Regions from separate parts of the Homo sapiens genome. Here regions 2, 3, 4 and 5 are each linked to region 1. Evidence: fine-mapped expression QTL. A gene starts in region 1. Each other region holds a variant in brackets. All regions are shown on one strand. Distances are between the middles of the regions.

Region 1 (5,000 bases):
GCTCCTTAGTGGGATGTCATGTGGCATCTTAATATTTTAATGTAATCCATGGATATGGGGAGACACTGGATGCCTGAATTAAATCCTAAGGGACTTAGAGAAAGTGGATCAGGAACTTTGGTTCCAAAGATCAACTCCATGTTCCCGCACATGGCCTAACCGTAACACTGTAAAGAATTTCCAGTCTTCCCCTTGCACTCCTATCAACACTGAGATGTATTTGAGAAAAAAAAAAAAAGAGAGAGAGAGAGAAGATCTCAGGCTGTATTGTGTTTGCTAATGGTTAATTACGTAATTAATCTATAAGACTACTTTTTTTTCTTTTTTTCTTTTTTCTTTTTTTTTTTTAAAGGGCAGAGACAGATATTCTTCTGGGAGAAGATGGCTCAAATGAGAGAGACTTGAAGCCATGTCACATGAAGAAGAGTCAGAATAATTGAGGATGGTTAATCCTCAAAAGAGAGTGTTTAGGTAAAATTTGAGGGCTGACTTCAAAGATCTGAAAGACTACTTCATGGAGGAAAGATGTGAAGACCCGGGACCAAAGGTTACAGGGGAGTGGATTTGCATAATTGCTGTGCAAGGAGGGAACAATTATGACAGCTAATGTTTACTGAGTGCTCACCACGCATGCACTAAAGTTAAGGTCTTTATATGCCTTAGCTACAAGGTTGTAGATCAAATTCATACTTATCACTACAAGTGTCTCAGAGCATCGTTAGTAAAGGCTCCATTTACTGACTACTTATTAAATTACTTCATTTAATAGTTGGTGCTATTGACTTTTGTTATTATATCATTACTGTTTTATAGATGAGGAAATACAGAAGTTAAGTTGCTTTCCTGCAGTCACCCTGCTTTAGTTACTGGCTTATAACCATCTGGACCCAGGCACTCTTGATACTAATACTGCCTCCCAGAGTCATGCGTATAATAAGGAGTTAGATCAGAGCTGTTCATTAAAAGTATAAGGTGAGCCACTAATGAGAGCCTATGTGTAGCCTTACATTTTCTAGTAGCTACATCAGAAAATGTAAAAAGAAACTGGTGAAATTAATCTTATATATGCTTATATCTTAACCCAACACATGACGAATCCAACTGACTTACTACATCAGACTATTCTCATGTATTGCAATAATGTAATCAACATAAACATACTTAACAAGTTAGTTTACATTCATTTTAAAAATACTGAATTGTATGTCTGTTTTACACTTACAGAACATCTCAGGGATAGCCACATTTCAAGTGCTCAACAGCTGCCTGTGGCTCTTGAGGGGGAAGATCTTAAAAGGGAGCTTAGTTTTCCACCTTGATTCTGATGCCTCCCTGCCCCCGACTTATTTCCTTTGCCAATTAGAAGAAAATGCCGAACTGCCTTTGACTTTTCCGGTAGAGCCAATGTAGGTATTTCTGAACTGGGGGAGGACAGGTGGTTCGCCTGCAACCCTCTTCCCTCCTGCCAGCTAGGCTGGGAGTTAACGTTTTTGATTTCTGCTTTGAAAATGATTTAAGTAGGTTGCATGAATTAAGTAATTTATTCTAAATATCAAATTATGGGTGGAACGTCTTGCCTTATGCAAAGTTATGCAAAATTAGGAAGTCCCTGGCTTAATTGGTTAGAAATACATCTTGTAGTTTCAATTGCAGGGTTAGTAAATACATAGATGTCGACGGAGAGGGAGGAAACTTTTTTTTTTTTTTTTTGCCACTCTGTCCAAGGGTAGAGGCACAGCGTCAAAACAAACACGTCTTAAAGTAGCGTTCAAACAGCCCACCGAAGTTTCCCCTTAATATCCGGAACCGGTTGCCAAAAATTAAAAAAGGATGTGAAAAGATGCTACTCGCTTTTGGCCTCCCGGAGATGGCGCTATGAGGGTGACGGAGTTAATTAGTGCCTCCAAACGCCGTGTGTGAGCTCATCGAAGTCATGCTCTGCACACATATTATTTATAGCAGATCTGAGGCATGCATGGTGTTTGACATTTCTGTCTTTTAAGTAGGGGGACTTCAAAAAGTCGTGGGCATCCCCCTAGGCAAAGTGCAGTGGGCAGGGACCAGGCAGGGTGCGGGCGCAAGGCGAACGCGCAGACCACGAGTGTCCTGGCGCAGGTGCCGGGGGCGGCGGCTGCAACTCCGCAGCGTCCGCTCGGGAGGAGAGTTCGCGGCTGATCTCCGGATGCCTTGCAGATGCAAAATGTGTCTCTGGCCAGCAGGAGGAAGGAAGAGGAAGTGAGAGCAGCGGCAGCCGGCGGTGCAGCAGCCGGCCGACCCAGAGTGTAAGTGCGTGTGCTGGGGCGAGCGGGAGCGGGCGAGGATGGGCACAGGATAGAGGCAGAGCCACCCACGCCGCCGCGGCCCCACGCTGGGCGACAGAGCCTCCAGTTCCCCTTCAATGGTGGCGGGTCGCCGGAGCTCTGATCGCCGGGAACCCTTGCCGCTGCTGTCCTGCGACCCCAAGCAGGTTCGTAAAGTTTCCTGGGCTGGCGCCGCGCCCCGACTCGCTGACCTCGGCGCGGCAGGGGAGGGGGCCGGGACTGGGGCCGGGAGGAGGCGTCCTGCTCCGGGGGACTCCGGGCGCCGCGGAGACACTTTTGTTTCCTCCCTGGGGGCGCCGCGGCTCGGGCGGGGGTGGCCGCCGCGCTCGGCAGGGTGAGGGCTGCGGGCGCGTCGGGGCGCTCTGCAGTTGGGGAAGTCTGAGCTCCGGGGATGGCGGGAGTGGGAGTGGGAGCGGAGGGAGGGGGCGCTGGAGGTGCGGCGCCCGCGGATGAAGCGCAGGGCCCGGGGCCCGGGAGCCCGCCGAGACATTTCGACCAGGGTCTGCGGGAGGGGGGGCGCGGGAGGGTTGCGACGCTGGCGCGGGGTTACTGGGGACGGGGGATGTGGGGCTGGGATCTTGGAGTCAAGATTCCTATAGAGCTAGAGAAGCGGCTGCGGCTCAGACTCGGCGTCTTCTCCTGCACTCGGGGATGGGAGGGAATCCCCCGGCGAGCGCGCTCGTGGGAGGGGGCGGTGATGGGCCAGAGGAATGGGGGCCAGGAGGGCCGGAGAGGGCGGTCTGGGCAGCCGGGAGCCCCTGAGGTTCTGGTTAGTAAATACTCTCCTCCCGGGGACACACCGGGGTCTCCGCCGAGACCGAGAGAGGCGGCGGGGAGCTTTGTGGAGCTTCGTGGAAATCTCGGCTTCGGAGAGGGGACGCACCGGGCGCGCCTTCAGAGAAGGGGGCGGCGGCATGCCAGGGGGCCCGGGAATCGGAGCGGAGAGTGGCGACTGCGATCGCCGGAGTCGCTTTGAGGAAGAGGAAATACAGAACTCAGCTGTCCCGGGGGTGCGCGCGTGTGTTTGGGGTTGGGAAGTCGGTGCTGTGCCGCGAGCGCGCGCGAGGCGGCGTGTGTGTGTGTGTGTGTGTGTGTGTGTGTGTGTGGTGTGTGCGCGCGCGCGTATGTATGTGTGTGTGGTGTGTCGTCGGTGTGTGTGTGAGTGTGTGTGTGTGGGGGGGGTGTTGTGGGTGTGTGTGTGAGTCGGTGTGTGTGTGTGTGACCGCACAGCCAGGAACTCCCCGCCCAGTGACCCTCTCCCGCCTAGGGGGCCATTTGAAGTTGGAGGCGGGTCGGGACCTGCCTTGACCTAAAGGACCAGCCTCAGGCTTGGTCCCAGGTAGTGACCCAGCTCTGAGAGTCCCTGGACGGCTCCCGAGACTCAGTGAATATATTTGGGATGCCCCCCGCGCTGGATCATGGGCTTCCCAACACCGCTGGCCTTGAATGATTCGGGCCTAATTCGTTATGGTTAAGATTTCAGATAATCTAAGACGGGTTGAGGCCTCCAGAAGCGGAGGCTTCCTGTTGGGCGCTGCCAGTGACTTGGGGATGAAGCTATGGAAGAATATCTGAGTGTTTCTCTTTTGCTTCTATAAAAGTAATTAATGACCTGTATTTACACACCAAAACCCTGCGAGCAACTTTGGGACATAGAGGGATATAATCCTTCTCAGAATCACTTTGAGATTGCAAAAACCGGCAGCAGCTATTATTGGGGTCTCCTCTGGCCAGGGTTCTCATATTATCTCACCTCCATGCCTACTTTCCAAGGTTGTTTCAAGCATTAATGTCCCATAATTTACAGATCTGGGGGAAAATAATGGTAAGTTAGGAGGCCAGATCCCCTGCAGAAACATCACATATTTTTAATTTTTCTTATAGCTGACCTTTTGAAGCTTTACTCTTTATTATTGTACATTTCCTATCTCTGGAAGGCTGTGGTTAAATGTGCATGCTGCCTTGTTTCTACTCTGTTTTGTTTGTTTTTATTAGGTTGGTAAATTTTGAGAAAATGACCTGGACTGCTGGGACTCTTGGGGAGGGGTTGTGTCAGGAGGGTACTGAACTGGAGAACAAGAAGTATGGTAGGTATCAGGGAGGGGCAGGCTCGGAGGCAGACCCGGATGGGAGTCTGGGGAAACTCAGGGCCTGGAGCAGTCATTGGGCAAGAAGATGGGCAGTTCTAGTGATGGTCATGCTTACTGTCCTTGGTAACTGCAGGCACCCTCACCGTCTTACATTCTTCTTTTTCACTGAGTTCTCTCCCTAGGGCCTTTGCCCATGATATTACAGGAGGAGCTTTTCTCCCACATGTCCAGATGACTCACTTCCCCTGCTTCTTTCAGGTCTCTGTCCAGTTGTCAGCTTATAGGGGGCCTTCCCTGGCTACCCCATATAAAATAGCAGCCAGACACTCCCTGGGCCTCTTATGTTACTCAGTTTTTTGTCTTAGTACCTTTTACTCCCTGGCATTATACAGTCATTGGTGTATTTTGAGTATTGTCTCTCTCCCTGTTAGAGCAGAAGTTCCATGAGGGTAGTGACTACCTTGTCTTGTTTACAGCTCCAGAACCTGGATGGATTCTTAGCATGATGTCGGTGCTCAATAAGTGTTTGTTGACTGACTAAATGAGAGGTGGCTATACTGGGAGAGATCCACCAGGGAAATATACCAGG
Region 2 (5,132 bases), 32 kb after region 1:
GAAGTCCACATTGGGTCAGAGCCTGCCTGCATCCTGAGCGGCTGTTTCTGTTCTCCCTGCCAGCATCCTCCTCTGCGGGCTCAGTCCTGGGGGGTAGGAGTGGGGTTATGGGGGAGTCTCTAGGACCCTGGGACCCAACACTGGAGAGATCTCAATCACGCTGGGTGCTCTTCTTCCCTCGACTCATGTTCCGTAGCTGCTTAGTCTTGTTGCGAGTACCCGACTCCTAGCCTCTGCAGCACCCTGAGAGCTGGGCACTTGACTCTTACCATCCCCATCTCGCCTCACTGCCCCTTCACTGCAGAAGCTGCAGTTTGCCTCCCACGCTTAACCTGATGACTGACACCTCCTTATAATACCTGCGAGATGACTTCTGTGATTCTGCCTGCCCGCATCTGTGTGTTTCTGGATTTTCCATCTCCACGCTTGGCCCTGCCTGAGACTTCTGCAGGTCAGCATCTGACCGAGGTTATCTGAGCTGACTCTGACGCATCCATGGTGTTGCTATTCACCAGATACAGAGTTGCACTGGCACAGCACAGTCCCTTCCCACTACTGAAGCTCTTTCTCCTTGCCAGAGGTCTTGCTCACCCCAGGGGCCTGGGCAGATCCAGTTCCAGATTCTGGAATCTCCCTACGGGCCTTACCTTATTGCAATGTACTGGGCCAGGCCACCAGATATTGCACTTTGAAAATCTGTTTTGAAGTTGCTAACTGCTTGGAGTACTGTGGTGCTGCAGGCTGCTGTCAGGGGTAGAGGTATGGGGAGCAGAGATGCCTGAGCTGATCTAGAAAATACTTAGGGGTAGAATGCTCTAATGTGAAAATTAATTTTAAAAAACACACTGTTAAAGACAGTTCAAAATGTGCTGCACTTTCTATCTGTAGCAATCTCAAGTCCAGAAAAAGAAGGTGGAATGAAAATTTTGGTTTCTGTCTCTTAGCAGATAGGTCAGGTCAAGTGGAAAGAAAATGGAGGCAGGAAAGAGTAGCTGGGGAGAGCCTGCAATGTTGAGTTTGTTTCCTGGGGCTCCCTTAACATCTTTTGATGAACTGGGTGGCTTAAAACCATGCAGATTTGTTCTCTCACAGCTCTAGAAACTAGCAGTCCAAAATCAAGGAGTTGGCCTGAAGGTTCCAGGGGAGGGTCTTTCCTTGCCCCTTCCAGCTTCTGGTGGCCCCAGGTGGTCCTTGGCTTGTGCAGTATCACTCCAAGCTGTGCCTCCATCTTCATATGGCTGCCTTCTTGTGTGTCTGTTTTTGCATGACGTTTTCCTCTTTTGTTTTTGAGACAGAGTCTTGCTCTGTCATCCAGGCTGGAGTGCAATGGTGCCGTCTCGACTCACTGCAACCTCTGCCTCACAGGTTCAAGCGATTCTCCTGCCTCAGCCTCCCGAGTAGCTGGGACTACAGGTGTGTGCCACCACACCCAGCTAATTTTTGCTTGTGTGTGTGTGTGTGTGTGTGTGACGGAGTCTTACTCTGTCTCCCAGGCTGGAGTGCAGTGGCGTGATCTTGGCTCATTGCAAGCTCCGCCTCCTGGGTTCATGCCATTCTCCTGCCTCAGCCTCCCGAGTAGCTGGGACTACAAGCGCCCACCACCATGCCCAGCTAATTTTGTTTTTGTATTTTTAGTAGAGGCAGGGTTTCACCATGTTAGCCAGATGGTCTCGATCTGCTGACCTCGTGATCCTCCCACCTCGGCCTCCGAAAGTGCTGGGATTACAGGCGTAAGACACCGCGCCTGGCCAATTTTTGCATTTTTTTAGTAGACATCTTCCTCTTTTTATAAAGATAACAGTCCTAGTGGGTTAGCACCTGCCCAAATGACCTCGTTTTAACTTGATTATGTCTGCAGAGACCTATTTCCAAATAAGGTCACATTCACAGATAGCAGGAAAGGACTTCAACGTGTCTTTCTCAGGGGACGCCTTTCCATGCATAACAGCTGCCTCTGGTCCAGTCTTTCTATCCCCTCTTCAGTGGTGTGTCCACCAGCAAAACTTCTGTGCCTCAGTTTCCTTGGCTGTAAAACGGTGCCCTCTTCTAGGATCGTTGAGAGAATTAAATGAAATCATGCTTGGCAGAGTATCACGCTCATAGAAAGTGCTCAGTAGGGGTTTAGCTTTTACAGCTAGTTGCTTGCAGTCATTTGATTTCATAAGCTAGGTTTGTGGAGAAACTGAGGAAGTGAATGAGCCAAACACAAAAGTAAACACTGTTGATAGGACAGGTGGTTAACTCTTTCAGTGCCACAAAACACATTCTGACTCACCTGCACACAAATTTTGCTTACAAGATTGTTGTCAGCACTAATTTTGCTCCAAGTATTTGCTTGATTAAAATCTCTTA[T/G]GCTACTCTTTGCAGCTGACCTATAACAGAAATAAATGAACTAACTAGAGATACTTTCTTCGTTGGGCTTCCATCTAGAGCTAAGCTTTACTTAGGCTTTCAAATTGTAAGCAAATGCAAAATAACTCTCTTGGGAAAATTCCAGAGAATCTAGGCCTTGAGCTGTTGTAAGCAAATGTGGCCCTCCTTTTAGGGCGGGAATCTAAGAAATGGAGATTATGCATTATCCAGTTCCAGGGGCATCATTCATACTGTGGTCTGTGCGTGTGCATGGACAAGCCTGCTCCTCTGGGTGAGGTGGCCATAGGTCCTTTCTGGGGTTCAGTAAGTTCTGATAGTGGCATTGTCATGGTGTGAAACCTCTCATTCTCCCAGTTTAATTATTCAGTGAGAATGGGATTCCTGAGATTCTAAACCATATTCCATAACTTTGGAAAATATATGTGTATATAAAATTTTCCATACGGTTAAAACCTGAGAGTGGACTGCAAGTCAAATTGCTATTTTCTTCCCTGCTTCGTCTTTGTGAACTTCGTATTGTCAGTTTTCCTGACAGTTGACAAAAGTGGGCAGTTTTGGTGGCATATCTGATTTAGGAAGTAAGTGCAACAATTTGAAAGCCTAAGTAAAGCTTAGCTTTAGATGGAAGCCCAATAAAGGAGTTATCTCTAGTTAGTTCATTTATTTCTGTTGTAGGTCAGCCGCAAATCTGAAAACACAGGTTTGAATTTGTATGCTCATTTAATGTTACTGATAATCTGAAATGCTGGTTTTTAGGACTGTAGATTTCATTATGGAATATGTTTTTAACTTAATTTGTACATGGGTCTCTTGTTGTTTTGGGAATTTTGTTCTAAGACATGTTGAAGCTGTGCTGTAGTTATTGGGTTTATGAGTTGTTGGGGTATTATTTATTTTTAATGTACTCTGTTCCTTCCTCTTCCCAAAGCAAATAATCAAGAATTAATGTTTAACTTTAAGTTGGATCCACTCACTTTATATTGAGAGTTATTATTACTTTAATTCACGTTTCTTTTCCCTGAAGCCCTGATATATCTTTGGGAAGATACATTTTTTCATGCATTAATTATTTTCTTTTCCAGTATCAATTGCAGATATTACAATCACAGCAAGAAACATCTGTTGTACCTTTATTATGTGCCAGGTACTGTGCTGCCTGCTTTATATGAATTATTATTACGATCATTAAATTTTTATATCCACGCTAGACTTTACATACTGTCTATCATAACTCACATTTTATAATAAGGACTTGAGACTGGGGAAATAAACTTGCCAAGTCGACACAATTTAAAAGTGGTAGAGCCAAGAGTTGAACTCACGTAGTCTCTGACTCTGGAACTATGCTCTTAAACCCTACACTCTTGATGTTGAAGATGTAGGGACATCTTTGCATTTGAAGACAGAAATGCACATACAGCCCAGAACTTTTCAGTGATTCCAAAGACCTCTGTATTTTCACGTAACATAACTTTGGAAGCCACAGATTCGCTTTGCTCAATCTATTTTGTTCAGGAGTACATGCATGCTAATTTGCTCAGGCAGTAGCTGAAAGCAGTGAGAGATATTCCAACAAGGCTCCAGATTGCAAGAGAAATGAGTGTGGATTTAAAAATTAACAGGCTTTGTATGCATATAACTAAGAATCAGCTTACTTGCCATGAAGATGAGTACCAAGGCCCCAAAGTATGTATGTCAGAAGGTAGGATATTACTTGGTTTTGTGTAATTGGTAATACCAAGGTCAAATCAACTTAGATAACTGGTTTAAACCATTAAATAGCTTTTTTGGCTTTAGATATTTCTCAAGATTTTTACTGCAAGCTACGTGCATTGCAGTCTGCAGGAAGAAAAAAAAGGATTATTAGTGTTTTTGCAATGTTCCTGCCCAGCGTTTACTTCTTTATTTGCTCTTGTTTTATTCCCACAGGGAAAGGTTCATTGTAACATACCCAGGGATGTGTGGTAGATTTTTCCAATGCAGCAGGTAGAATGACTTTGATGGTAAGAAACAGAAAATTGAATGCCGACTGGCTTAAACAATAAAAGCTTATATCATTGAAAAGATTAGAGGTATGGTGAGTTACAGAATTAGATTGATTCAGCCACTCTCTGGGTCATTTAGGGTTTCTTTTTTTCTGTCTCTGCCAAACAGGATTGGACTTTGGAGTTGGCCACAGGGCAGATTCCCCCAACACACCAGCAGGGTGGCGATCAGAGAATGCCAGAACAAACATTAGATAATTTTTAAGAAGAGTGACTTGGTGTATGTGTGCCCCAACAAGTATCCACCATAGCCAGTGACCTGGATATGCTTAATTTAGATTAATGAATTTATCCGTCCTCTCTCTTCTCCACCTTGTAGGTGTTAATATTCTACATGTAATGTACAGGGGTTTTCCCCCTCGGATATTTTTGGTGAATATTTCTGTAGTTGTCCCTAAACATAGAAAGATTTTCCAGCAGGATACTAAGAGGTACTGTTTAGCATATTTCAATTTCCCATTACCAATCCCACAGACCTGATAAGATATGGATGTTGGCTGCTAATATCAAATAATGTTTTCTAATTTTCTTAGTGGAAAATGAATGGAATGAATCATTCAAATGAATTCCATGATTCATTATGGAATCATTCACTCAATATTATTTTGATATTAAATGATATTAATTATATTAAAATATTATTTTGATATTAAAGTGGAGGTAAATTGACTTCTGTCATATACCTTTTCACTTTGCTACTTCACAGTTTCCCTC
Region 3 (5,132 bases), 570 kb after region 1:
CCTAGGGTCTGTAGCAGATAATGGGAAATACTAAGGTGTTAACATTAGGCTCCAATATTGCCAGTCCAAGCCAAACTGGTGGTGCAAAGAAGACTGTAGAACATCTCAGAGGATGGGGAGAGGCCCTTCGGCTGCAGGGATAAAGAGGGCTTCCTGGAGGAGACAGCTGCACAAGCATTGCTGTCACAGTTCAAGTCCCTAACCTATAAAAAGTGCTCTTTGCCTCTTTCTTCCTGCCTCATAGACTTACTCAAAATTTCTTCTCACTTTTGAGAGACTGAGGCAGTAAAGTTGAGGAAGTTGTTTATAAGGATGACCCTAATCTCCTGGTCATACCTATCCAGAGAAGTAAATTCTGGGAATTGGAGAGGAGAATGATTGTGCATGTCCCCATTCTTTGGCTAAATCCGTGAATTATTTAGATGATTTCCTCATGAATCCCACCCACCATGTGTATTACCAGTGTCCTAACAATTCGTTCATGATTAATGTGCGTGTGGTAGCCTAGGGTAGGGGTTTGTTGTATCAGCTAAAATCTGGCCTTGGACACAACTGTCTCAACAGTCTGAAATTCTCAGAGAGGAAAGTGGAAGCAGAAACATTCTGAGAAATCTGTTTTTTTTTCTATATCTCCCTCCCTCTTTTGTCAGTAAATGAATAAGGAGCAGTTCCCATGGTGGTTATCATTAGTGATAACATAACCTCTGGAAGCCACCACCTCATAAAATCTATTGCTATTGAGCTTGAAGAGTTCAATGACTTTACTAATGGTTACCAAATGTATACCAAGCAGGACAGGTGATAACTAAATATTAAAGTCAAAAGGGAATTTATTGCCCAGGGCCCTAGAATTCATTCTTCCTCAAGACTTAAAATCAAATGAACTGCTTGTTTCCTCCAGGCAAGAGTATTAAGAAATAACCAGGCTAGTATTTTGATAAACCACAATCACTTACCTTGTAAACTTGTGTTTTTTCTCTCAGACAAGTTTTGGTATTGTCGGCTTTCGCCAAATCACAAAGTCCTGCATTACGGAGACTTAGAAGAGAGTCCTCAGGGAGAAGTGCCCCACGATTCCTTGCAGGACAAACGTAAGTAGCTCTCCTTGGCAGAGGCCTGAGTGGTGGTCGGTTGGTTGTTTCCTAGTCACAATATATCACGCAACAGAACTATCAGCCTAAGTAAGCCCTTTGAACACATCTCATCTAGTTGTAAGTCGTCGCCTGAGCCATCTCATCAAGTACAAGACCTGGATGGACTTGGGGTTTGGAACTGAATAGGGGAGAATGTAAAATGGATGCAAAGGTATCTTAATTGAAAGACGTAAACTGGGGGTTCAAATGTCCACTTTTTACATTATTTATCCAGGTGCTGTGTCAAGGAGCAAAAACAATACAAACCTGATTCTGTCAGCTGTCTTTTTCTGAAAACCCAAAATAATTTCTTATTTTCGTAACTTATATGCCTGACCCCTACAACATTTATTCCTTACAATTTAGTGTATCCCATAGTTATGACACAGAGTTAATGGCAGAGCCAAATATAGCTAGTTTACCTCAAAGACACTTTGAAAATGATGATCCGTTACCTCTACTGTTTGCTAAATATTTCTCTTGTATATTTTTTGGCTTTTTCTATATGTTGTCTGTTTTAACATACATGCTTTTGAAGAGACAGTAATGTGCAGGATTCTTTTAGCCCCACAGGGAACCAGGTGCCAGGTTGACAGTGTTAACAATACAAATTAAACAAGTATTATAGAAACACTGAAATACACAAGGGTGATAAATTAATTTGGAGGAGAAATGAGATAAAATGAACGTAGCCTCAGAGGATATCCCAAGTAGAAAAATCCGAGAGGGAGAAAACATTCAGAGCACTTTTAAATAACCTTTAAAAGTCACCTTGACCTTGCAGTGTTCAGATAAGCGTGTCCCAGACAGTGTCCTTACCCAGAGTCTCACACCTTCTGTCCTGTTACCCTGGGGCCCATGGAAGTCAAATCTGGATTACCTTCCTCACAGCTCACGGCCATTGAAGGTGAAAATAACCCATGAGTGGGAAATTTCCTGACACATTCAGACTCTGCGCTGACATCTCAGGCAGATAGCCTAGAACATTCACTCTTCCTCCAGCTTAAAAATGGGACAGTCTGGTCTTTGTGATGTCACTTAGTTCAGAAAACGATCTTGTTTTCTTTCATAGGAAAACTTTCTTCCCAGCCCACATTATTGGCTCCCTAAGTCAGGGGTTATAGAAAGAAATCTGAAATCCACTGCTGCAGAGAGCCTGGGACATTGTCTATGCCTCCCTGCTTTGGGGCAGGAGTTAGGGGTGTCCTGGGCCTCTACCTGTAAATGAGGATCCTCCTTTCACAGTTCCAGCCTTCCCCACCCCACCTTGGCCAAGCTAGACCAGCGGTTCTCTAAACGTGGTCCCTGGAACATCAGCAGCAGTATCACCTAGGAACTTCTTAGCAATGCACATTCTCAGACCCCATTCCCAGCCCTGCTAAATCAGAAACTCAGTGGGTGGGGACCAGCCATCTCTGTTTTAACAGATGTTCCCGCCAGTTCTGACATGCACAAGTTTCAGAACTGTGATTCCCCAAATGTGGCTTTCACTAATAATTTTAAAAAAACAAAAAGTTTAAGTAAATTAATAGCATGTTGCTAACTTTTAACTTGGGCCAAAAAAAAAAAAGGATATTAAAAAATAAAATCTAAAGTTTAATATCACAACCCTTTCATAAAAGAAAGGACCCTCGATTACAAGAAAAAAAAAAGTAAGAAGGACCTAATCTTAGATAAAAGACAGTCCCTTCTGCTAAACTAAATTAGCCCTCTGAAAAACTCACACCAGCATTCTCGTTTTTCTGCATTTGCTATTAACTGGTGAAAAGCTCACTGGTGTAAACTCCCTTGTGAACTAGGAACTGACCAGAGCCCAGCGATGTGGAATCACTGCTCTGCAGTGGTTAAACAGAAAGAGTTGAGGTTATTGTTGGTTGAAGCAAATAGCAGCTCCCTAGGAGGTCCCCCACAGCCCCATTCTTAACCTGTCACAAGGGGAAAAGTGGTCAGGACAGAACAAACACAGCTTGACTCCCCATATGGTCCAGTGAATCTGCTCTCCCACTAACAGGACATAG[T/G]GTTTAGCCCCATGTTTATAGGGATGTAATCACTTCTCAACCCAAAGATAGGCACTTGACCGACAGGTTTGCCAGGTGTTAGCACAGCACCCCCATGCTAATTGGCCAGCTACCTAGGATATTGGCAGCCACAGCAACAAAGCCTTGTGTAGGGGCAGTTCCTGGTCTTGCCCACAAGCTAATGCCCCCCAGCTCTGCTAAGACCCTCACCCCCAAGACTCCAGGGTGAAAATAACTAACCTGGAACTAGAGGTGCTGATGCCAGGGAGAGCCAGCTTGCCAGGGTGAGTGCAGGAGAGCAAGGCCAGAGCTGCAAATCTCCACACAGCTTTTCGCAGTGGCCACTGAGCAAGGCTGGTTCTTGAAGGGATTGTGACAGCCCCTCCTGACCATGCCTCCAAAACTCTTAGCAACTGCTTTCCTCTGAAATGAAGTTCCAAAGAGCTGCTCCAAAAACAGTATATCCATTGCAAGATGAACTAACAATGCATACTTGTGTGGATCTATTTATCTGCACAAGTATTTATCCACACCTTGTGGGAGAGTGTGTGTGTGAGAGAGAGAGAAAGAGAGTGTGTGTGTACTAGTAAGACTGTATCCTTCTGCACATATGTGCTAGAGAAATGGGTATACTCATGTAATGAATTGAAATGAAGCAATACTGTGCCTGAGACAAAAAAAAAGCCCGGCCTAATAAGCTGAAGTTTCTTGCTGCAGGCCTGCCACCTTGGTTTGCATTTAATTCCAATTCTGCATTCTGCCTGGAGCAAAATAGCCACCTTTTGGAACTCTTAAAAGTCAGAAACCTCATTCCACTGGAAAAATGAGACGTGCTTTTAATTAATGTTCAGTGTCATTGCTCTTGCCACATAACATTGCCCTCTCTTGAGACCAAGGCAGAGAGTGTCTTGTGCCCCTTGAGTTAATCCGTGCTGAATACTGAGCTATTGATAAATCAAATAGTATAATGGAGTTTTCTTAATACAGATAGTGCACATGAGGATTGAGGGTGCCTCCTTGGCTGTCTTCTCCAAAGCTTTAGGAAATCTTTCTTTTTGTATTCCTTTTCTTTGTCAGGAAATTTGGCCTTTGAAAATCGACATCTTCTTACATCCCCCCTCTCCCCATATCCCTCCCAAGCTGACTTACAGGTTGTCATAGCCCCCAATAAACATAGGACCCCACTGCTTTCCAGCCATGCCCTGGGTTCCTCACTGCCTCCCTTTGAAAGAATCTAGGCCAGCATTCCTCACTCCCACATCAGAGGGGGCAGGGAGGAAAGTTCTGGCTCACCCTGCCCATGTGGAGATGAAGCCTGCTCCAGTGGATGCGAAGAGCGGCGACACAGGGAGGCACTGTGGGCAATTTGGGTCACCAAAGCACAGCGAATAATTCAGGTCTCTCCATCTACAGAATTAACTCTGATTATTGATAATGGGAATAATTGCAAATGGCATTTATTGAGTGCTTACTATATGCTAGGCCCTGTGCTAAGGGCTTTACATAAATTATTCTCAACAACCTAAAGAGGTAGATAATATTGTCCTTATTTTACAGAAAGGAAACTGAGATACAGAAAGATTAAGTAACTTATTCAAAGTCATAAGATTAGTAAATAGTAGAGAAAGATCTGAATGTAACTGTCTAACTCCATGGCCTAGATTTTCACCCACTACTGTGTACTGCCTAGATTAAAAGCCAACAATGATCTCAGCTCCAGCATCAGGATTTAACTCTCAGAGCAACCATATGGGATAGATAATGTTAGAGTTACAAATTGCAGACAAGGAAGTTGAGGCTCTCAAAACTTAAGCCCAAAGTAGTAGAGGCGGTTGGTGGATGTAGAATTCAAACCCTGGCACTCTGATTCCAAAGGCGCATCTTTTCCCCACCATTCCATGCCATGTGGCTGATCTGCTAGGCCACAGAGACCAGGTTCTTCATGCAGCTATCCTGGGATGAGCCTGTACCTCCTCATATT
Region 4 (5,132 bases), 57 kb after region 1:
GGTATTGTCCAACATTATATTAGTGTCCCTGGGCCTAACAGGGAGAGGCTCCCCATAAATATAAGTGGCATGAATGAATGAATGAATGAGTAAAAAGGGGGTTATTTCTTGCATCAAAAAGTTAAGGCAGCTTACCTCTACTTAGCTATGGAAAAATTGTGTGAGTAGGACTTAAAGTATTCTGCTATTTGTCCACAAACCATATCATCTCTCCTTTCCACCTATTTATCCCATCTAGGGGGCAGAGCAGGGAGCACTTATACCATACAAGGCAGAGAAGATACAGATCAAGATATGCCCAAGGCCCTTCTAGTTCAGCCTCTCCTTGGAGTAGGTAGGCCAATCTTTATGGGCTTGTGGGGATCTGAGCATAAAAAAGCAAGCTGAGGAACAAATGAACAGTGATTTTGGTTTTTGGATAAACCAAAACCAGGCACCGCTTGATAGCAGGCAAGGGAAAGGCTGCAGCTTCACTTTTCTGTGATATTTCCACCAAAAATGCATAACCTGAATCTAATCAGTAGCAGCAGCACCAGACAAACCCAAATTGAGGAACAAAATAACCAGTCTATAGTCTTCAAAAGGGTCAAGGGCAGAGGAAAACTGAGGGAAGCACTTTAGAATGAAGAGACTGAAGAGACACAACAGCTTAAAGCAATGTGTGATTCTGAATTGGATTTTTTTTAAATAATGTACTATAAAGTACTATTATTGGGACATTTGGTGAAATAATTTACTATAAAGTACATTATCGGGACATTTGGTGAAATTTGAACGAGGTCACAAGGGCAAATAGAATGTGTATTAAATGTTAATTTTCTGATTTGAATGCTTGTGTGGTGGTTATATAGGAGAATGCCATTGTTTGTTGGCAATCTTCACTAAGGTATTAGTGGGTGGTGAGCCACTGGGTTGGCAAGTTACTCTCAAGTTGTTCAGGAAGAATGAAATTTATTTATATTATATCTGCAATTTCTTGTGAATTGGAGATTGCTTCAAAATAAAAATTTTTAAGAAAGAATAAAAATTAATGAACAAGCTTAGACTTTTCCTCATGGACAAGTTGCCCAGGAGAGATGTTTTGTATTATGTCCTGATGGAAATGTGTGCAGAAGTGGTCTTGGTAGACCTTGGAATGAGTTGGGGGTGGGGAGGTGGTGAAGCCAAGGGGCACAACCAAGAGAAAACCTGCATCCTTTCTCAGCAACCCTCAGGAGGTGGCCTTAAGTGCAAACAGGCTCAGAAGACAGCAGGCTCCAGGGGAGCACAGTTACCTCCCAGGGCAGATGCAATTAGCAGGTTTTTAGTGACTGGGGAGCCAGAGGCCAATTTGATGATTTACTGTAGGAAATATCATCAAGACCACTGGTACTCAGACTAGCAGATTTCCTCCCTGTAGGCAGACGTCAAGGGAAGGAGTTGTAATCAGGAGAGCATTTGGTAAACATAGAATCACAGTGAGAAGAGCTAGCCAGTGTGATCAGAAAGTCCAGAGGCCTCCAGAGTCAGGACAGCCCCATCTCTCCATTCTATAGGGAGGCCTCACACCTGGCAGCAGATGTGGAAGAGAGAGGCTAGAGTGGGGCTGCCCTCCCTTGTATAGAGCTGGGGTAGCCTAGCAGCGCCAATTTGCTCAGATTTCATGGTTGGCCACCTCTGCTTCTGACTGACGTGCTCATGCTTTAGATATGCGAATGGCCTCAGCTAGGTTGTCACCAAGTTCTGCCAACTGCAAAGCCCCATGGACTCTCGAATGGCTTTGCAGATCTGGGATCTTGTGTTCCTTCTTTCTGGGTTGGTTTTATACGTTAACTGTCAGAGGCATATGCCACTTTATTCAGGTTCCTTAGAGCTTCTCCTTGCTACCCTGTACTGCCTCAGAGACCACTGGCCATGTGGG[A/C]ACTTGAGTTAGAGATATGCTGACCTCTAGAGTAGCAACTTCCCTCTTTCTGTTTTGTTTTGTTTCGAAGTCTGGAGCCACATCAGAGGAAGGAAAGACTTTAAAAAAAAAAGTTTACCATCCTGGAATATTTTATTATCTCTAGAGTTCTTTAACTTCCCCGGGTTGCAGACTTCCTTTCGAAATTTAGCCAGAATATCTATATTTCTCATTTGAGAACAGTGTGTCTCCCTGCTGGAAACTCAAGTTCTTCAATTTCTGGGTGCAAAGTCCACGCAGGGCCATTGCATGTGTGTGGAGATTACAGTTCTCTTTCTACAACTGAATGCTTTCTTAGGGGGGTACACACACTTCCCTACAGGCTTTGCTGCTCTTTCTTGCACAGATGGCCACTTCTCCTGTAGGCCTTCTGGGTACTTAGCCCTGGAACCTGTGGTCCCAAATCGTTCCTTGTATAAAAGCCAGCTCTTCCCTGGTGAGTGTTACATGGGGGCTTGCCCAAATCTTGAAGCTCTTGAGTAGCAGAGGCTGTTTCTGAAGAGGTTCCTGAAATCAGGAATGTGGCATGCAAGTCGGCCCCCAACTGGGGTCTCTGGATGGCTCAGTGGCTAGAGACCCACCATGAAGGTGTGGGTCCTTCCATGAGTAACGAAGGCCGTGTGCACCTCCTGGTATAAACTCTGTTTTCTTCAAAGAATTTTTAGAGAGGAAGTACATATATAGACTGGCTTACACTGGTCGAACATAAGAGTCCTCAACTTAGTGTAATTTTATATTTTATATTTTGTCATAATATTATAAGGCCTTGCACACAAATGCCTTTATAAATAACTACTTCTGGGCTGGGTGCGGTGGCTCATGCCTGTAATGCCAGCACTTCGGGGGGCCGGGGTGGCAGATCACTTGAGGTCAGGAGTTCGAGACCAGCCTGGGCAACATGGTGAAACCCCATCTCTACTAAAAATACAAAAATTAGCCGGACATGTTGGTGGGCACCTGTAATTCCAGCTACTCAGGAGGCTGAGGCAGGAGAATCATTTGAGCCCGGGAGGTGGAGGTTGCAGTGAGCTGAGATCGAGCCACCACGCTCCAGCCTGGACAATAGAGCAAGACTCTGTCTCAAAAATACAAAAGAAAGAAAGAAGTAAAGAAAGAGCGGTGGGGGGAAAGAGGGAGGGAGAGAGGGAGGGAGGGAGGAAGGAAGGAAGGAAGGAAGGAAGGAAGGAAGGAAGGAAGGAAGGAAGGAAGGGACTACTTTCCCAGAATATACCTGATTTGGGCTTGATGTGAACATTGAACCACTTCCCTCTATCACATATTCAGTTGGGGATGGGAAACAGTGTCTACAGGGTCACCAGGTCAATTTGGTGTCCTGCCCCAGCCACCTGTGTGCCCTGGCAGTTGTCTATAACCAGATTGTCCTCTCATCTAAAAGTGCAAACTCCTGATAAGCTCATGGCCCTCAACACCTGGTGGATAGAAGCAATAGCATGGGGGCTGGGGGGTGGTAAGCACCTATAAGTCTCAAAGAGCGGAGCCTTGGTTTCCATTTGCAAACAAACCCATAAGCCCTATATGAACTCTGACATTAGTCTTTGATATCTGTTTGATTTTTTTACTGGGTCAGGGACTGTGATGAGTCCTAACCTAGGGGACCATGAAAAGGATTAGAAATAGAATTACTGGAAACACATGCTATTCAAAACAGGTAGGGCCTGAGTCTGCTTAGGAACCTGTAGCTTTTGCTTTTTTTCTGTCCCTGGGCCTCTGTGCGTCTGGGAGTCAGAAGAAAAAAAAAAGGCAGAGTGTAATAAGAAATGTGCTCCTTGGGGCACCCTACTGACCTGTGTCTTTGTCAGTCAGATTTCCTACTTGATGGGAGGAGTTCTGCCACCCTCCACTCTGCGAGACCTTCCCTTGCACAGTGAGTGCGGGCTTCATGTGAAACCGTTCATACTCCATGCAAGTGGCGCAAGCCTGACAGCTGTGAAGAAATGCTTCTTGGGTTCCTGCTCAGTTAAGGGGCTGACTTTATGCTCATAGCGACAGCTGCAAAATACAGATTTAGGGTGGAGGCACCAGGTCTAAATTCCAGTTACCGTTTGTGTTTTTAAAAAGTCTGCATTTTTACGTCCATGGTGCAGTTTTACAACTTGCTGCTGTGATAGCCTATACACAGACATTTCTTGTTCTTTTGATTTTTAACCAAATGATTTCTGGAACCAGAGCATGGGTGACTTCTCAGGGGATGAAAGCGCTAGAGAATCTGAATTTCAAGAGGTGGGATAGGGAAGGCTATGAGATTTTGGAAGTTGGGCAACATGGGAGAGACTGTGGGAAGCGTGCCTTTCTGCTTACGGTGATTAATTTTTGTTTCAAAGAGCAGCTCTCCCTAATGAGGGTTGCACATGCTGGAGAATTAGTAAGAATCTCGGGGGATGCCCGTGCTTCATTCTTTACGCATACCCCTAGGTAGAGGTGGAAGTATTTGGTTCCCCTACACTCCTGACAGCCTATTTCCTATGGTTAAAGGAGAACTGGATTTCCCAGCAAAAGCTGAATATCAGGGTCTGGAGAGTCCTGTGTCTCCCTACTACCTGTGACCAAGCTATTATTCCTGCCTCTTCATGCTCCACAGTGTGGCAGGATGGAAGGTTTGTCTTCTACCTGGACGATTCGAGACTCTCGCTTGCCTGAGGTGTTTTAGCAGTGGACTGAAGTGTACACATTTCAGGTGACAACTTCATTGCTTCCGCTAGAGGAAATAGACATACTGGTCTACATGTGCATCAACACAATGGAGGGAAAAACACTCAACTTTTTAAAATAGACTTTTAAAAACATTACCAAGACTGCTTAACAAAAAATCCTTTTGAACTTGGAAAGTCCTTTCTTCCATACATAAAGGAAAGGTTTTATGTGGCTGTTTTGCTTAATGTGGGCTGGTTTTATTTTGGACTCTTTGAAACCCAGCGTGAAGGCTAAAATTCTGCTCTGTGGAAAAGTCAAAATGAAAGGAATTGCCGGGTTTGGGTTGTGCTGAATTAAAGTGACAAGGTACAGATAACAGGGCACAGCCATGCCCACAAATTAGCCCTCTCTAATTTGCTGCTGTGGAAAGTAGTGCTTTGGTGTTGCATTGTTATTTCTTTCCTTGAATTAAAGTTTAAAAAAGAAAGCCTAGTTTGCTCAAAGGAGGAAACCGGAAAAATGTAAGCACTTCAGTATTGAA
Region 5 (5,132 bases), 630 kb after region 1:
GTAGCTGGGACTACAAGCACCCGCCACCATGCCTGGCTAATTTTTTGTATTTTTAGTAGAGACAGGGTTTCACCATGTTAGCCAGGATGGTCTCGATTTCCTGACCTCGTGATCTACCTGCCTCAGCCTCCCAAAGTGCTGGGATTACAGACATGAGCCACCGTGCCCAGCCTTAACCAAGTTTTAACAAGGGTGAACAATTGGTCATCTCCTTTATAAGTCAAGAGAAATTTGTAACACCTGGGAAAAGAACAGGCCAAGGATGGGTATGATACAGGAGTCCCCAGTCCCTGGGCTGCGGACTGGTACTGGCCCACAGCCTGTTAGGACCCTGGCCACACAGCAGGAGGTGAGTGACGGGAGCGAGCATTAGAGCCTGAGCTCCGCCTTCTGTCAGATCAGCAGAGACATTAGATAAATTCTCTTAAGAGCATGAACCCTATTGTGAACTGTGCATGCAAGGATCTAGGTTGTGTGCTCTTTATGAGAATCTAACTAATGCCTGATGATCTGAGGTGGAACAGTTTCATGCCCTCACCCACATCCGTGGAAAAAAGTTGTCTTCCACGAAACGGGTCCCTCATGCCAAAAAGGTCGGGGACTGCTGCTTTAACACAATTTCAGACAGAATAAGCCAGGGATTAACACCAGAGTTTATATCTATTTGTTTCTTATTTATTGTATACGTATATGTTTTCTTTTTTTTTTTTTGAGATAGAGTTTTGCTATTGTTGCCCAGGCTGGAGAGCAGTGGCACGATCTCAGCTCCCTGCAAACTCTGCCTCCAGGTTCAAGTGATTCTCCTTCCTCAATCTCCCGAGTAGCTGGGATTACAGGTGTGTGCCACCATGCCCGGCTAATTCTGTATTTTTAGTAGAGAAGGGTTTCTCCATGTTGGTCAGGCTGGTCTCGAACTCCCGACCTCAGGTGATCAGCCCGCCTCGGCCTCCCAAAGTGCTACGATTACAGGCGTGAGCCACCGCGTATGTTTTCGTTAATTGTTTGGGTCTAGATTTTCTCAATGAGTCCTTTGGTTATCTCTATCCAGTCTGAGCCAAACTATTCCTCTGAGAATTGTGCCAGGTGGTTCTTAGCAGACATGGAGAGTTAAGATTCCAGGGTTAAAATCAGCTGTATACTTTCCCTTCCAGAATTCTATCTCAACAAAGCTCATTTCTTCCTAGGAGGATGCAACCAACTCCAATGCTATGCTACCACACAAATCCTTCTAAAACAGTTGCTAATTTTTAATCAACCAAATTTATATATTTTGAATACAAATTTTCTTTTTAAAAATATCAGATGGCATTTAAATATTTATTTCCTTCAGTGTTTCTTTCATTGATTTGTTTCAGAAACTGACAAGAACTTGTTGTTAATTGTGTTTATGAGTTTCATAATGAATAATACATTGTTTTTGACAATGATAATTATATTTCTCTATTTATAGAAAGCGAGTGCAAAGAAAAAAAAAGCAGTCATTTCCATATCCTCAATTATTTCATCTAACAATGCCTTCACATTCCAAAGAAGAGCTGTTTAGTTAGATTTTTAAAAACTTAATGTCTGCTTATGGTTTCCTTAACGAATTCCATTACTTTCGGTTGTCTCTTATCTTTTCTTGTAAGCATCACATTATTTACTCTCTTGCTGCTTACAAGCCAGTCTACATCAATATGTATGAATATCTCTCTCTTCATTTTGGCACATGTAAGAATAAGCATATCTTATTATGCCCATGAACACACATACACATGCGTGCAGACACATGTACTCAGACACACATGACGTACTTATGTGATCACATGCAGAAAGAATTTGTCTCCCCTAATCAAACTTGGAGTCCGTACAGTACAATAAATTAGCAGGGAAAAGTAGGCTATTGTTATTTGATCTTCTCCAACTCCATATACCATACATTTTTAAAATTTAGTTTTTAATCAAAGTTATACATGCATACTTATACAGTCAAATTGTTTTACCAGAATTATTACCAAAATCAAGCTGAACCAAAACAATAACCTGCTCCCCACCTACAACCTCAAGTTTCCATTCCTAAAAGGCTACCTTTGCAGCTTTTTAAACTATTGCTCTTGTTTTTCACCTGCGTATCAATAAATAACATATGATTTTTAGCACTACTTGTGATTTTCAGCATTAGGCAGCATAAAATGACTTCCCACTATGGAAGATAAGGATTTAGCTCTTTTTTACTCTTTGCCCCACCATTATCACATCTCCTCTCTCTCTCTCTCTCTCTCTCTCTCTCACACACACACACACAAACATTTCTCTTCCCCTCAAACTCCAGTTATACTTATGTCAAGTTTTTGATAAATTCAATATTTAATATTAATATTATAACTGTACAAATATAAATGCTATTCTCAGTTGAGCCACATAGGATATGCACAACTATTTGTTTTCTGCGAAATTAATAACTGGATTTTTTTTTTAACTGACTTAGTTTGATGGTTGATTTTATGTGTCATGTTGACAAGGCCATGGGTACCCAGTTATGTGGTTAAACATTATTCTAGCCATTTCTGTGAGGGGTTTTCTGAATGAGATTAACATTTGAACCTGTGGACTGAGTAAAGCAGAGTGCCCTTGCTGATGGGGTGGGCCTCATCCAATCCATTGAGGAAGTGAATAAAATAAAGAGGCTGAGAAAGGGAAAATTTGCTCTCTCTATCTTGGAGCTGGACCACTGGTCTTCTTTTGCCCTCAGACTTGAACTTGGACTGGAACTTACACCATCAGCTCTCCTGATTCTCAGGCCTTTGGACTCAGTCTGGAACTCTACCATCAGCTCTCCTGATTCTCAGGCCTTTGGACTCAGTCTGGAACTCTACCATCAGCTCTCCTGGGTCTCTTGCTGAATACAGATCTTGGGACTTCTCAGCCTTTGTAACTGTGTGAGTCAATTCCTTATAATAAATCTCTTTATCTTTTCATCTTTCTCCTTTTCTCCCTTTCTTTTTTCCTTTTCTTCCTCCCTCCTTCCTTCTTTCCTTCTTCTCTCTCATCTATCGTCCATCTATCTATCTATCTATCTATCTATCTATCTATCTATCTAATCATCTATCTATATCTATCTATCGTCTGTTTGAGTATCTTTCTATCCATCATCTCTCTTA[T/C]TGGTTCTGTTTTTCTGGAAAACCCAAATGAATACACTTAGTTTCATTTATATTTGCTCAGATTCTTCCACAATCTTCAATATCTCCTCTCAATACTTTTGAACACATCAGGAGCAAAATATCCTCTTCTCACAGATATTCTCCCAGAAGCCACTGAACTGGTTGTGCTCTATCTTCCATGCACAGTGGGCGTCTAGGAACTTCCTTCACTATCATCCTAACCCTTTCCAATGTATCTCCTGTTTCTTGGATCCCATGGCTTCTGCTTTCTTGGTTTTTACCCTCATTTTGGATTTTTTAAATTGAGATAAAGATCACAAAACATAAAACTTACCACTTTAACAATTGTAAACTGTACAAGTGGTTTTTAGTATATTCACAATGTTGTGCAACCAATACCACCACTATCTAATTCCAGAATGTTTCATCACTCCCAAAAAGAAACTCCTTACTAATTAAGCAATCACTCCACATTCCACTCTTTCCCTAGCCTTGGGCAATCACTATCTAATTTCTGTTACTATGGATTTGCCTATTTAGGACATTTCATACAAATGGAATCATACAATATGTGTCCTTTATGACTGGCTTTTTTAACATAATATTTTCAAGCTTCATGCATGTTGTAGCATTTATCATTACTTCATTCTTTTTATGACTGACTCATATTCCATTGTATGAATGCACTAACTTTTTTTTTATCCATTCATCAGTTGATGGGGATTGGGTTGTTTCTACTTTTGGCTATGATGAGTAATGCTACTATAAAGGTAGTGTTAGTGTACATCTGTTTTTAGTTCTCTTGATAGTACCTAGGAGTGGAATTGAATTGCTAGGTCATATGGTAACTCTACATTTACCCTTTTGAGGAACTGCCAGACTTCCATAGCAGCTGCAGCATTTTGCATTCCTACCAGCAATACACAAAGGTTCAAATGTATACATCCTCACAAAAATTTATTTTCCTTTTTTTTCTTTATTATAGCCATCCCAGTGGAAGTGAAGTGGTAACTCATTGTAATTTTGATTTTCATTTCCCTAATGATTAATGATGCTGGGCATCTTTTCATGTGCTCATTTGCCATTTGTATATCTTCTTTGGAGAAACATCTGTTCAAGTTCTTTGCCCACTTTTAATTGGGTTGCTGTCTTTTGTTTTTGAGTTGCAAAGTTGATTTAAATAGTCTATTATTAGACCCTTTGTCAAATATATGACTTGCAAATATTTTTTCTAATCTGTGAATTGTCTTTTAACTTTATTGATAGTATTCTTTGGTGATGCAATTTTTAAAATTTTGACGACGTCCAATTTACCTGTTTTTTTGTGCTTTTGATGTTATATTTTAAAAAGTTACCTATCCAAGATCACAAAGAATTACATCTACATTTCCTTCTAAGAGTTTTATAGTTTTAGCTTTTATATTAAGTCTTTATTCAATTTCAAGTTAATTTTTTTCATTCAAATATTTATTGAGCAGCTAAGGAGATACAAACGTGATTTAAAACATGGTCAGAGGTGAGGCAAATGCACAAGTAATAGAAAGCAAAGGGCAAGGTTCATTGAATCACAGCAGTCAGAAGAAAAGTGCTTTGGGGAACCAAGAGTGACATGGTTTCCAGCCTGAAGAGGCATGGGTGGCAAATCAGAATAGGGAATTGAGATTAAAATAGAAAACTTTAGTCTGGATTGTTGATGACACTCAGTGTGGACTATATTTGTCTCTCCTTTTTCTCTCTCCCCACCTTTGGGCTTAATTTACTAGTAGTCCCCTGGACTGTTCAATATGCTTTTTGTATACTTGCTTGCATTTTTGCTTTAATGTCTTCTACAGAACTAGGTCCTTTAGGTGTTTTAGGAATTTTTTCCTGTTTTTTGAAGGATTCTTGTCCTTTTGATCTTGGTGTTGATGGTTTTGAGTCTTTTCCATTCTGATTTGACTTTTGTGCATTTTTGGCTCGAGTATCTTGTATAGATTTCTTCACGGGTGCTTT

Evidence for each region. PIP is the estimated chance that this variant, and not a neighbour inherited with it, causes the effect.
Region 2: its variant is fine-mapped to the expression of ELMO1 in whole blood (INTERVAL, PIP above 0.99).
Region 3: its variant is fine-mapped to the expression of ELMO1 in T cells (TOPMed, PIP 0.98).
Region 4: its variant is fine-mapped to the expression of ELMO1 in blood mononuclear cells (TOPMed, PIP 0.96). The same link has a PIP of 0.9 or more in whole blood.
Region 5: its variant is fine-mapped to the expression of ELMO1 in whole blood (TOPMed, PIP above 0.99).

The regions. Positions count from the first base shown.
Region 1 is chr7:37,446,142-37,451,141 of GRCh38, reverse strand. ELMO1 (engulfment and cell motility 1) reads left to right here and starts at 2,278. Exons shown (of 22, transcript NM_014800.11): 1 at 2,278-2,467. RefSeq lists silencers at 2,529-2,578, 2,589-2,638.
Region 2 is chr7:37,413,998-37,419,129 of GRCh38, reverse strand. The region is part of intron 1 of ELMO1 (engulfment and cell motility 1); the gene reads left to right. Among named protein-coding and RNA genes, the nearest start is that of ELMO1, 32 kb to the left of the region's middle. The variant T/G (reference allele first, on the strand shown) is at 2,353.
Region 3 is chr7:36,873,969-36,879,100 of GRCh38, reverse strand. It overlaps ELMO1 (engulfment and cell motility 1), which reads left to right. Exons shown (of 22, transcript NM_014800.11): 19 at 984-1,091. Among named protein-coding and RNA genes, the nearest start is that of MIR1200, 43 kb to the left of the region's middle. The variant T/G (reference allele first, on the strand shown) is at 3,152.
Region 4 is chr7:37,389,024-37,394,155 of GRCh38, reverse strand. The region is part of intron 1 of ELMO1 (engulfment and cell motility 1); the gene reads left to right. Among named protein-coding and RNA genes, the nearest start is that of ELMO1, 57 kb to the left of the region's middle. RefSeq lists an enhancer at 1,538-1,647. The variant A/C (reference allele first, on the strand shown) is at 1,901.
Region 5 is chr7:36,819,481-36,824,612 of GRCh38, reverse strand. It overlaps the pseudogene NPM1P18. Among named protein-coding and RNA genes, the nearest start is that of MIR1200, 97 kb to the left of the region's middle. The variant T/C (reference allele first, on the strand shown) is at 3,141.